Homo sapiens: one gene and its partner. The protein of the gene in region 2 interacts with the protein of the main gene of each other region in a biochemical or structural test. Each region holds a gene or a part of one and is shown on either strand. Other genes may lie near its edges.

Region 1 (3,590 bases), on a different chromosome or scaffold from region 2:
TCAAAAGACAAAAAAAATTATTCATCCTTTCTGGAATGTTAATATAGCATTTAAAATCTGGCAAACACCTCCCCCATTGTAAACTAAGATAACATTGCCAGATCTCAGTGTTTTTTTCTATCATCAATAGCATGATTTTTGCAGTAATACATTCATCTTAATATTTTCTGTTTAGATCTCACTGATGAAAAGGCCTCCAGGTTTTTCACCTTTCCGATCATCACGAATAGGGGAAATAAAAGAAGAAACAACTGTAAGTCCACCCCACACTTCCATGGCACCTGCACAAGATGAAGAGCGGGATTCAGGAAAAGAACAAGGGCATACTCGTAGACATGACTGGGGCCATGAAAAACAAAGAAAACATAATCTTGGCCATGGCCATAAACATGAACGTGACCAAGGGCATGGGCACCAAAGAGGACATGGCCTTGGCCATGGACACGAACAACAGCATGGTCTTGGTCATGGACATAAGTTCAAACTTGATGATGATCTTGAACACCAAGGGGGCCATGTCCTTGACCATGGACATAAGCATAAGCATGGTCATGGCCACGGAAAACATAAAAATAAAGGCAAAAAGAATGGAAAGCACAATGGTTGGAAAACAGAGCATTTGGCAAGCTCTTCTGAAGACAGTACTACACCTTCTGCACAGACACAAGAGAAGACAGAAGGGCCAACACCCATCCCTTCCCTAGCCAAGCCAGGTGTAACAGTTACCTTTTCTGACTTTCAGGACTCTGATCTCATTGCAACTATGATGCCTCCTATATCACCAGCTCCCATACAGAGTGATGACGATTGGATCCCTGATATCCAGATAGACCCAAATGGCCTTTCATTTAACCCAATATCAGATTTTCCAGACACGACCTCCCCAAAATGTCCTGGACGCCCCTGGAAGTCAGTTAGTGAAATTAATCCAACCACACAAATGAAAGAATCTTATTATTTCGATCTCACTGATGGCCTTTCTTAATTTAAGTGGCTATGGGTATTTCTTTCATACTTTATTAAAGTATCAATATCCCTCTCTCCATTGTCCAGATGAAAATATCCTGATATAATGCACCAAAAACCATGCAGCTTCGGAACAGTCTAAAGAGAAGTGGTGAGACTCCCAGTGGAGACACCATCAGTCTCCACGGACTGCATAAAATTGTGTGCCACAATTCTAACTCTTTTCTGAATCTTCTTCCCAAGTTTTCTAAACTAGCACAGTAAACAGACAAACTAATGTGCCGTATGGCCTGCTGCAATTGGCTTCTCTGATAACAAATATGTACCTTACAACATATGTCATGAATTTGCATACAAAGATTCTTGTCATTCTTAATAAACTGTGGCACTTGGTATTTGAATGTGTGTGAAAATAAGGGAAGTCAAGAGATTAAATGCTGAACTTATTAATGGAATAGAAATAATAAGGAGGCTGAGGCTGGAGAATTGCTTGAACCCGGGAGGCGGAGGTTGCAGTGAGCCGAGATCGTGCCACTGCGCTCCAGCCTGGGCATCAGAGCAAGATTCTGTCTCAGAAAAAAAGAAAAAAAAAGAAATAATAAGAAAAACTTCCAGATTTCAAAGTAACAAGAAAGAAGACAGGTTGGCCAAAGGGAGGAAAGGGGGGACATAAATTAATTGACTTTCTATTCCCAAAATGGGCTAGTTATATCAAATAAATACTCCCACTGCCCTTTCTGAGTGAGAGTGTTTCTCATAAGTCAAAAATTTCTGTTTACTCATTAACTACTCTTTGCAACAGGCTTTCATATAGAAGTATTCTGTTTATTTTTGCTGAGCCTAGATTGAGTAATTCTTAGTTTACAGAAGCTCCGAGCTTAATGATAAGGATGAAAAGCAGAGGGAGCAATATAGAAGCAGGCTTGCTAATAAAACTTTTTAAATAATTGACAAGGGAATATTATGGAATGTGATGCAAAGTTTGTTCCGAAATTTTATGAGGAAATTACTCTCTAGTCTCACTTTATAGTCTTTTTGCTATGACTTTGAAGACCATTGATTTTTGAGAAGCAGAATAATAGGATTGCCTTTCATTGCCCTATAGTGCAAAGAAGGTATATGCTTTATAACCAATGTTGTACTTTTGCCTAGAAAAACAAGATATGGCTTTAAATAGCTACAATCATCTTTGGATGTATATGTCACTGCTGCTTCAAGTTATTGGATGCATTTGAACCTCTGAGTTTGTCTTTCATTTTAAATATTGTCTGTTCTTTTAAATAAACAACCACAGATGTCAGGAAAAAGTCTTACCTTGTCAACTGGTTGCTCCACTTTTTAAAAATGATTGAATGATAACATCATATTAACTGCGTTTTACTATACTTACAGAGTCACCTAAGGTCCTGCGAGTACAAGGGTCGACCCCCAAAGGCAGGGGCAGAGCCAGCATCTGAGAGGGAGGTCTCTTGACCAATGGGCAGAATCTTCACTCCAGGCACATAGCCCCAACCACCTCTGCCAGCAACCTTGAGAGGAAGGACAAGAAGAAAGATGGGATAGAATTTAAATAGAGAAGAATGCCATTTTATCACTCTGCCTCTGGGTGAAATAAAGATCAGTCTTGATGTTCTAACTCTAATTCACAGTGGTCTCCTTTCAGCCCTACCCATTCTGCAGCAAATTCCAGCTGGTCAGAGAGTCAGTGCTGTGGCTCTGCCATGGAGGCTCATAACCCAACACTGGAACATTCCCTAGCCAAGGCAGAAGTCCTTAGGCGGGACTTCCTTACCACCACGGGTGCTAAAAGAAGAGTTAGTAGGTCATGCTTCTACCAGTAATCTAAGGACTCTCTCCTTCTCTTCTTCCTCTTTCTCCAGATTTCCAAGCCTTAGCTAAGAGTAATTTGGCTTGTTTAGTATTGTTTTCTTATGGTCCAGTTAATTACCAAAAATATTTTTAAAATCATCTCTGTTAATAGAATGTCTACCAACTTCTCACTATCAGAAAATACTCAACCTCCAAACAATTTGAAATTATCTTTCTGATCCAGGTAAAGAAGCAAATTGAAAATCAATAAAGTAAAAAGTGACGGAGATTTTAAATTTTCTGTAATAAAAACACTTATTGGGTTGGGCATGGTGGCTCACGCCTGTAATCCCAGCACTTTGGGAGGCCGAGGTGGGTGGATGACCTGGCGTCAGGAGTTCGAGACCAGCCTGGCCACATGGCGAAACTCCATGTCTAATAAAAATACAAAATTAGCCGGGCGTGGTGGCACGCACCTGTAATCCCAGCTACTCCAGAGGCTGAGGCAGGAGAATCACTTGAGCCTGAGAGGTGGAGGTTGCAGTGAGCTGAGATTGCACCACTGCATTCCAGGCTGGGTGACAAAATGAAATTCAGTCTCAAAAGAAAAAAAACATTTATCGAACACCTATTACAGCCATTTGCTATGCTAGATAATTTACTTTTGGCATATAACTTAATCCTCACAACCACTCTAAGGCCCCCATGAACATCATTCTTTTACAAGGAAACTGTAGTTCACAGTGCCCTGCCCAGGGTCATATAGTTAATAAGTGGCAGGGCTGGCATTCAGACTTAGACCTTTTGAACTCCAT
Region 2 (7,038 bases):
TGGGGCCCTGTCCCTGCTGCAGGGGGTGGGTTAGGGTCAGGCCAGCACAGCTGCACTGGGCCCAGCTGCCAACAGCCAGGGAGGGAGGGATCCCGGGCTCAGCAGTGCGGGCAGCACACCTGCTCAGCCAGGCACCCAGGACAGCTGCAGCGGGCCCCTGCAGAGGCACACAACACAGGCACACACACACATGCAGACGTGTACACACACCACACATGCACGTGTACGTGCATACAGATGTGTGCCTGACTGCATGTACACACCACGTGCATGCACACACCACACATATACATGCATCACACCACACATATGTACACACAGAGATGTATACACCCCTTACCCACACCATACTCCCCGCAAGACACTACACACCACACACAAATATACACATGCACACGTACACACACATACACACCACACAGACACACACACCACACGCACACACCATACACACGTGCAAATGTACACGCACACAAACACCAGAACCCCACACACCCGGTGTGTGCACTCTGCCCCAGTGTGCCCCAGGTCCTCCGTGAGCAGAGCCTGTGCTTGGAGGAGAGCTGGGCTTGGCCCTGTCTCTCTGTGGCAGAAACATAGCCAGGAAGAGAAAGCTGGCTGGATGCCCGCGGGTGCCAGGCTGTGTGCCAGGAAGAGAAAGCTGGCTTGATGCCCGCGGGTGCCAAGCTGTGTGCTAGGCCTGCCCAGGAGCCCTGCAGTCCCTGCCAGGTGGGAAAAAAAGTCACCTGACTTGCCCAAGCCACCAGTTGCCGGGGTCCTGCCCTTTTGTTTCCAGATACACACCCACCCCGTCCTTAACCCACGCATCCACAGCCAGGGGCGGCTCAGTGGTCACTCACAGGCCCTCGGCCCCAGAGGCAAAATGACGGAAGCAGGCCTCAGCCTGGTGCTGGAGGCCGGCAGCACCTCCTAGCGGGCAGCAGGGCCGTTCCACCCCTGGGTTCCCTTCCCTCCATCCGGGAGGTGCCCAAACCAGGCCTAGGTCGGCTCCTTGGGGGGTCTTAGGGCTTCCTAGGTGGGGTGGGCCCCTGGGTCTGACCTCCCAGGACCTGAGAACATTATAGCTGGCTGGGACCCTTTTATCTGGCACCAAGAAGGTGGAGAGGTACTGAGAAGGGGTACCCAGGAGCCTTCCTGTCATGGTGGGCAGGAAGACATTTCCGTTACCCTGGGGCTGTTGTCAGAAGCAAAGATCAACACACCTCCTCCAGCAAATGCCAGTTCCTGTCACGGCCTCCCAGGCTGCTGGGGCGTTCCTGCCCCACACCCTTCCCTCGGGTGGTGCTGGCAGGGCCACCCAAGGTTCAGTGGGCAGACCCAAGCCAGCAGAGCCCCAAACTAGGGCCTGCCGGCTTTGAAGACAGCGCTGGGTGCTGTGCTGTGGCCCGGGAGGCTCGGGTGCCCTCAGCCACAGGCCCTGGCTCCCCTCCATCCCCCGAAAGCCCTGCACCTGTGCTGGGGGCTCTGAGGCCAACGGAACACCCACCAGGGGCCCATCTGAGGATCCCACAGCTTAGACGCCCCAACAAGCCCCAAGGTCCTGTTGTTTTGGCAGTGACCTCATTCCCTGGTTCCCAGCAAAATTATAATCAGAATACAAAAATGTCAAAAGGGAACCCTTGATCCTTCCCGTCCTGGGGTCAAAAACAGAACCTGCACCCTGCTGTAACTTCCTGGAGGAGGTGGTTTTGGTTCACATTGGGCCCACCCTGTGTCTGAAAGCCCCCATATCTCTGATCGTTGGGGGTTGTGGTTCAGGCCGAGGCCAGTTCCAGCTCTCCATCTGGGCCCCCTCAAAGTCCTGCGCCTGGACTGACCTCGGTGCCACGAGTGCCCACCAGCCCCTCAGCTGATCGGAGGCCCTGTGCGTGCTGGAGCTACCCCAGGGTGCAGGGTCCAGCCAGCTTCAGGACTCCCCCAGGGTGCAGGGTCCAGCCGGCTTCAGGACTCCCCCAGGGTGCAGGGTCCAGCCGGCTTCAGGACTCCCCCAGGGTGCAGGGTCCAGCCGGCTTCAGGACTCCCCCAGGGTGCAGGGTCCAGCCGGCTTCAGGACTCCCCCAGGGTGCAGGGTCCAGCCGGCTTCAGGACTCCCCCAGGGTGCAGGGTCCAGCCGGCTTCAGGACTCCCCCAGGGTGCAGGGTCCAGCCGGCTTCAGGACTCCCCCAGGGTGCAGGGTCCAGCCGGCTTCAGGACTCCCCCAGGGTGCAGGGTCCAGCCGGCTTCAGGACTCCCCCAGGGTGCAGGGTCCAGCCGGCTTCAGGACTCCCCCAGGTCGCAGCTGCGCCAAGTGGGGAGGGGGTGCAGACCTCCCCTGGCAGCCCCAGCCAGGCTGGTAAGGACTCACACCCCAGCTCCACGCTCTCCCTGGGGCCGCAGACATGAGGTCTCCGCCCCTAACACAGTCGTGACCAGTGGCATGCAAACACTTCATACCCTCAAATGGGGAAACTGAGGGCCCCAGCAGCAGCAAGATATGGACCTGGTGCCCAGTTACCCCGGGCACTCCCACCTGCCCACAGGGAGAGGGGGTGCACCTTGATTCCAGCAGGATTGGCTCAGAGACCACGGCACCCCAACCTTGACCACAGGAAGGGGGCTGGTGGGGAGCCACCTTCTCCCCACTGTTGCTCCTCCATGAGCAGCCCTGGGGGGCTTGGAGCTGGGGGCACAAGAGAAGCCAGGCCCTGCCCCACCCCCCAATGCCAGTGGCTGAGCCCAGACAAACAGCTGGGGATGAAGGTCCGCTCCAGGAGGTAAGGCAGTGCACTGAGCCTGGCAGCCAGCCTCCCTTCTGTGGGAGAACAGGGCAGGGCAGCCCCTCTGCCCAGCAGCCAGGATGGCCCACGGAGGTCCAGGGCCTCACCTGAGGCCTGAGAGACCAAGACCCCATCAGGCCTATCTGCCTCAGTTTCCTCCATGTGCCTGGAGGTGGTCGAAGGGCCTGTGCCAGCTCCCTGGGGGATGGGAATGGGTAAGGCACAGATGTAGGGCAGCATTCGGGCAAACAGGTGCCTGGCCACTGTCACCTCTGGTGCCCTGAGGCTAAGCCGGCAGAGCTGCAGGGCAGGAGGGGAGGAAGAGCACAGACACCCCCCACCCCAGCCCCTGAGCTGGCCCCAGAGCTCTGGCCTGGAGCCTGATCACCCTGAGGCCCTCCCTGCTGCCCCACACTGGGGGCAGGTGCCCTCCTCATTCTCCAAGGCCCTCCCTGCTGCCCCACACCAGGGGCGGGTGCCCTCCTCATCCTCCAGCTCTGGACATCCCCCATCTAAGGGCGGGCGGGTCCCCTTACCAAGACCTAAGGTGCAAAACCCAAAGCTGAGGCTGCTTAGGAATCCACAGCCCCACAGGCCTCTCAGAACCTTGCATCAGAGTCGCCCTTGACCTCAACCCTGCCCGAGAAGGAAGTGCTGGTGCAACCCCAGCCCAGCTGCAGGAAGTGGTACCTGTCACCAAGTCCCCTGCACAGGGGAAGCAGGGGGCTGAGGGGGCAGGACCAGGGGGACGAGGTCATCCTTCCCCGGAGAACCCCTCAGGGGCCGGGCGCCCTTCCCTCCCGGGCACCAAATGGACACAGCTAACAAGAACCACACTTCACGGTGAGCAAAGCTCTGAACATTCAGGCTCTGAGACACGAAAGCGGCGTCAGAAGAGACCTGCAGCAGATCCGGGCCAAATCACACACACCCTTTCACAGAAGTCGAGGACAGGAGAACAGGAGCAAACACAGGAAAGGAAGAGGCCAGCCTGGTGGCTGACGCCTGCAATCCCAGTGTTTTGAGAGGCCAAGGCAGGAGAATCACTTGAGGCCAGGAGTTTGAGAGCAGCCTGGGCAACACAGTGAGACTCCTACCTCTACAAAAAATAAAAATAGAAAATAAATTAGCCAGACATGGTGGCATGCATCTCTAGTCCCAGTTACTCAGGAGGCTGAGGCAGGAGGATCACTCGCGCCCAGGAGGGAGAGACTGCAGTGAACCCTAATGGCACTGCTGAACTCCAGCCTAGTTGACAGAACGAGGCCCTGTCTCAAAAAAAAAAGAAAAGAAAAAGAAAGGAAACTTTAAGCAAGACAGCAGAGAGAGGGCAGAGCCTATGCTGGGAGAGGAATCCAGCGGGGTCAGGCTTCCTTTTTATTTTTTTGAGACGGAGTTGCGCTGTCACCGGCCTGGAGTGCAGTGGCGCGATCTCAGCTCACTGCAAGCTCCGCCTCCCAGGTTCATGCCATTCTCCTGCCTCAGCTTCCTGAGTAGCTGGGACTACAGGCTCCCACGACCACGCCCAGCTAATTTTTTTGTGTTTTTAGTAGAGACGAGGTTTCATCGTGTTGATCAGGATGGTCTCGATCTCCTGACCTCATGATCCGCCCACCTCGGCCTCCCAAAGTGCTGGGATTACAGGCGTGAGCCACCGTGCCCAGTCTCAGGCTTCCTTTTTGCAACCCCGTAAAACCCTAAGACGAGACTGCTTGAGGAACCAGAGGCCCCGCAGACCCATTGGAACTTTGCATCAGAGCTTCCTCCTGCCTGTGCTGAAACCCACCTTGCGCTGTCCTAGAGGAGAGGCACTCGCATCAAAGTGACTCGGAGGTGCGCGGGAAGTGATGGACGATGCCGCCAGGGGACAAGGTTGGAAGGAAGAGGACATGGGAGCCAACCCCTGCGCTGGGAACTGAAGGCTCAAGGGATGATTATAAACTAGGCATCCACCTTTTAAGCCAAAAGCCAGAGCATCAAGATGGACTCATTTCTGCTTTGTAGGAATGTGATAAAGAACTGGAGAGAAGTGCCGTCAGGTGGGGACTGGAACACTGTCCTTGGATCACAGAGGCTCCAGGAAATCCAGGGACAAAAACAGGTCAGATCAAATAGGAACAAGTCGGAGCAGAGAGGATGCAGGAAAACCCAGCCCATGTCGCCTCTGAACCTGCGACCCTGCAAAAGCGTATTTTCCCAAGGGTCAGGGAGACGTGTTCCTACTGTTGGTTTGACTATCTGTGAAGTTTGATAGCACAGTTTTGTTTGTTTGTTTGTTTTTTTGAGATGGAGTCTCACTCTGTCATCCAGGCTGGAGTGCAATGGCTAGATCTCGGCTCACTGCAACCTCCGCCTCCCATGTTCAAGAAATTCTTCTGCCTCAGCCTCCTGAGTAGCTGGGACTATAGGTGCACACCACTAGGCCCAGCTAATTTTTGTATTTTTAGTAGAGATGGAGTTTCACCATATTGGCCAGGCTGGTCTCGAACTCCTGACCTCGTGATCCGCCTGCCTCGGCCTCCCAAAGTGCTGGGATTACAGGCGTGAGCCACTGCGCCCGGCCTGATAGCACAAATTTTAAAGGCCACAATTTCTGGCCAAATGAAATAAAATGAGACACCCCACCCCCCCGACACACACATATTAATAAGGAATGCTAAAGTACTCTGCTAAATACCTGAAGTCAAAGGGAAATCAAATGATATTTACAGCATTTTAGACAAGGGGACACCACTCCTCCATCTAACATGAAGGAGACTGTCTGTTCCTGGGTGGCGACGTGAGGCCGAGGCCCCGGACACTCTTGCTGTGGACATAAAAGAATGGCCACAAATGTGTAGGACTTCAGTTTTAGGGAATAAAACAATAAAGGAAATAGAAGAATAGGTATCTAAGAGTAAGGAAACCTCAGCATAAAAGCTAAGGGGAGGCCGGGCATGGTGGCTCATGCCTGTAATCCCAGCACTTTGGGAGGCTGAGGCAGGCGGATCACCTGAGGTCAGGAGTTTGAGACCAGCCTGAGCAACATAGTGAAACCCCATCTCTACTAAAAATACATAAATTAGCTGGGCTTGGTGGCGGGCGCCTGTAATCCCAGCTACTCGCGAGGCTGAGGCAGGAGAATCACTTGAGCCCGGGAGGCAGAGGGTGCAGTGAGCTGAGATCTCACCTCTGCACTCCAGCCTGGGCAACAAGAGTGAAACTGTCTCAAAAGAAAAAAAAAAAAAAAGCTAAGGGGGAAAATAGCAAGAAGACAGACTCTAAAAATGGCACATGTTGTACTAACAAATTGCATAGAGGAAATAGCTATTATCTCTCTAGTGCAAAAGGTAAATGGTAATCTTCATCTCTAAAGAGATCTTAGAAATTAATAACAAAAAGGTAAATACTCCATTCAAGGATGTTTCAAGGGTGTGGCACCCTGAGCAGGTAATTCACAAAAGAAGGAAGAAAACTGGCTAAGAAACATATGAGTCACCCCAGGAAAGAACCAGGGATTTCAGCCAAAATATCTTGATTCCCTGTGTAGCCGTCAACGTGTAAGATGCTTTGGCGGTTTCGGTGCCTGCGCTATGGAGTCCCACACAGCAACGAAAACATGCAAACAGCTGCTCAGGGCAGCTTGGCTTCGTGGTAAAAGTGAATTTATGGGGAAAAAAAGAGAGACACAGTTCCAAAATATTCTGCATTTCTCTGGGTGGTGGCACTATGAGTATTTTCAATTTTCATTATTCCTGTTTGTATTTTCCACCCTTTTTGTGATAAATGAATAAAGGACATTTTAAAAATGGAATTTCATGGTGGCCGACGAATTATGCTGAAATTGCTCCTTCGGATTCCAAAGCTACTGGCTTTCTTGTTCCCACTGTGACGTTGATGAGGACGCTGCTTCATGGCAGTGGGACCTCCCTGCTGGCATGGGCTTGTTGCCACTGTCACTCACCCATTCACCCATCCATGGGACAGGGGCTTGCCAGCCTCTCCTCTAGGCACGGCGCAGGGGCTGAGAGCTGCACTCCAGGACTCCTGGACTCTGCCCTCTGCTGAGACTCTCAGCACCTCTTTTCCCCAACACCTACCCCAAGTTTCCATCACACACAGAAACCTCCACCACTCCCAACACCAACATGTGTCCCCAGCGAGGCTGTTTACAAATCAGCTGGGCAGGAAGGTGTTCCCCTGGGGCTAACTCTTCTGCACTCTCAGACCCTGAATGGCCGGAGAGAACACGCAGCCCGGGGTGGGCAGGGGCCTCAGCTCA

The links. The genes of interacting proteins can lie anywhere in the genome.
Region 1: the proteins of ITGB2 (region 2) and KNG1 form a complex in vitro, tested with the Homo sapiens proteins (one study listed by BioGRID).

Annotation. Positions count from the first base shown.
Region 1 is NC_000003.12:186,741,347-186,744,936, forward strand, and holds the end of KNG1 (kininogen-1 isoform 1 precursor), read left to right. Parts: intron 1-175; coding exon 176-985; 3' UTR 986-2,358; coding exon of another isoform or gene 2,359-2,439; 3' UTR 2,440-3,064; downstream 3,065-3,590. UniProt on the Homo sapiens protein: Kininogens are inhibitors of thiol proteases.
Region 2 is NC_000021.9:44,910,881-44,917,918, forward strand, and holds part of ITGB2 (integrin beta-2 isoform 1 precursor), read right to left. Parts: intron 1-7,038.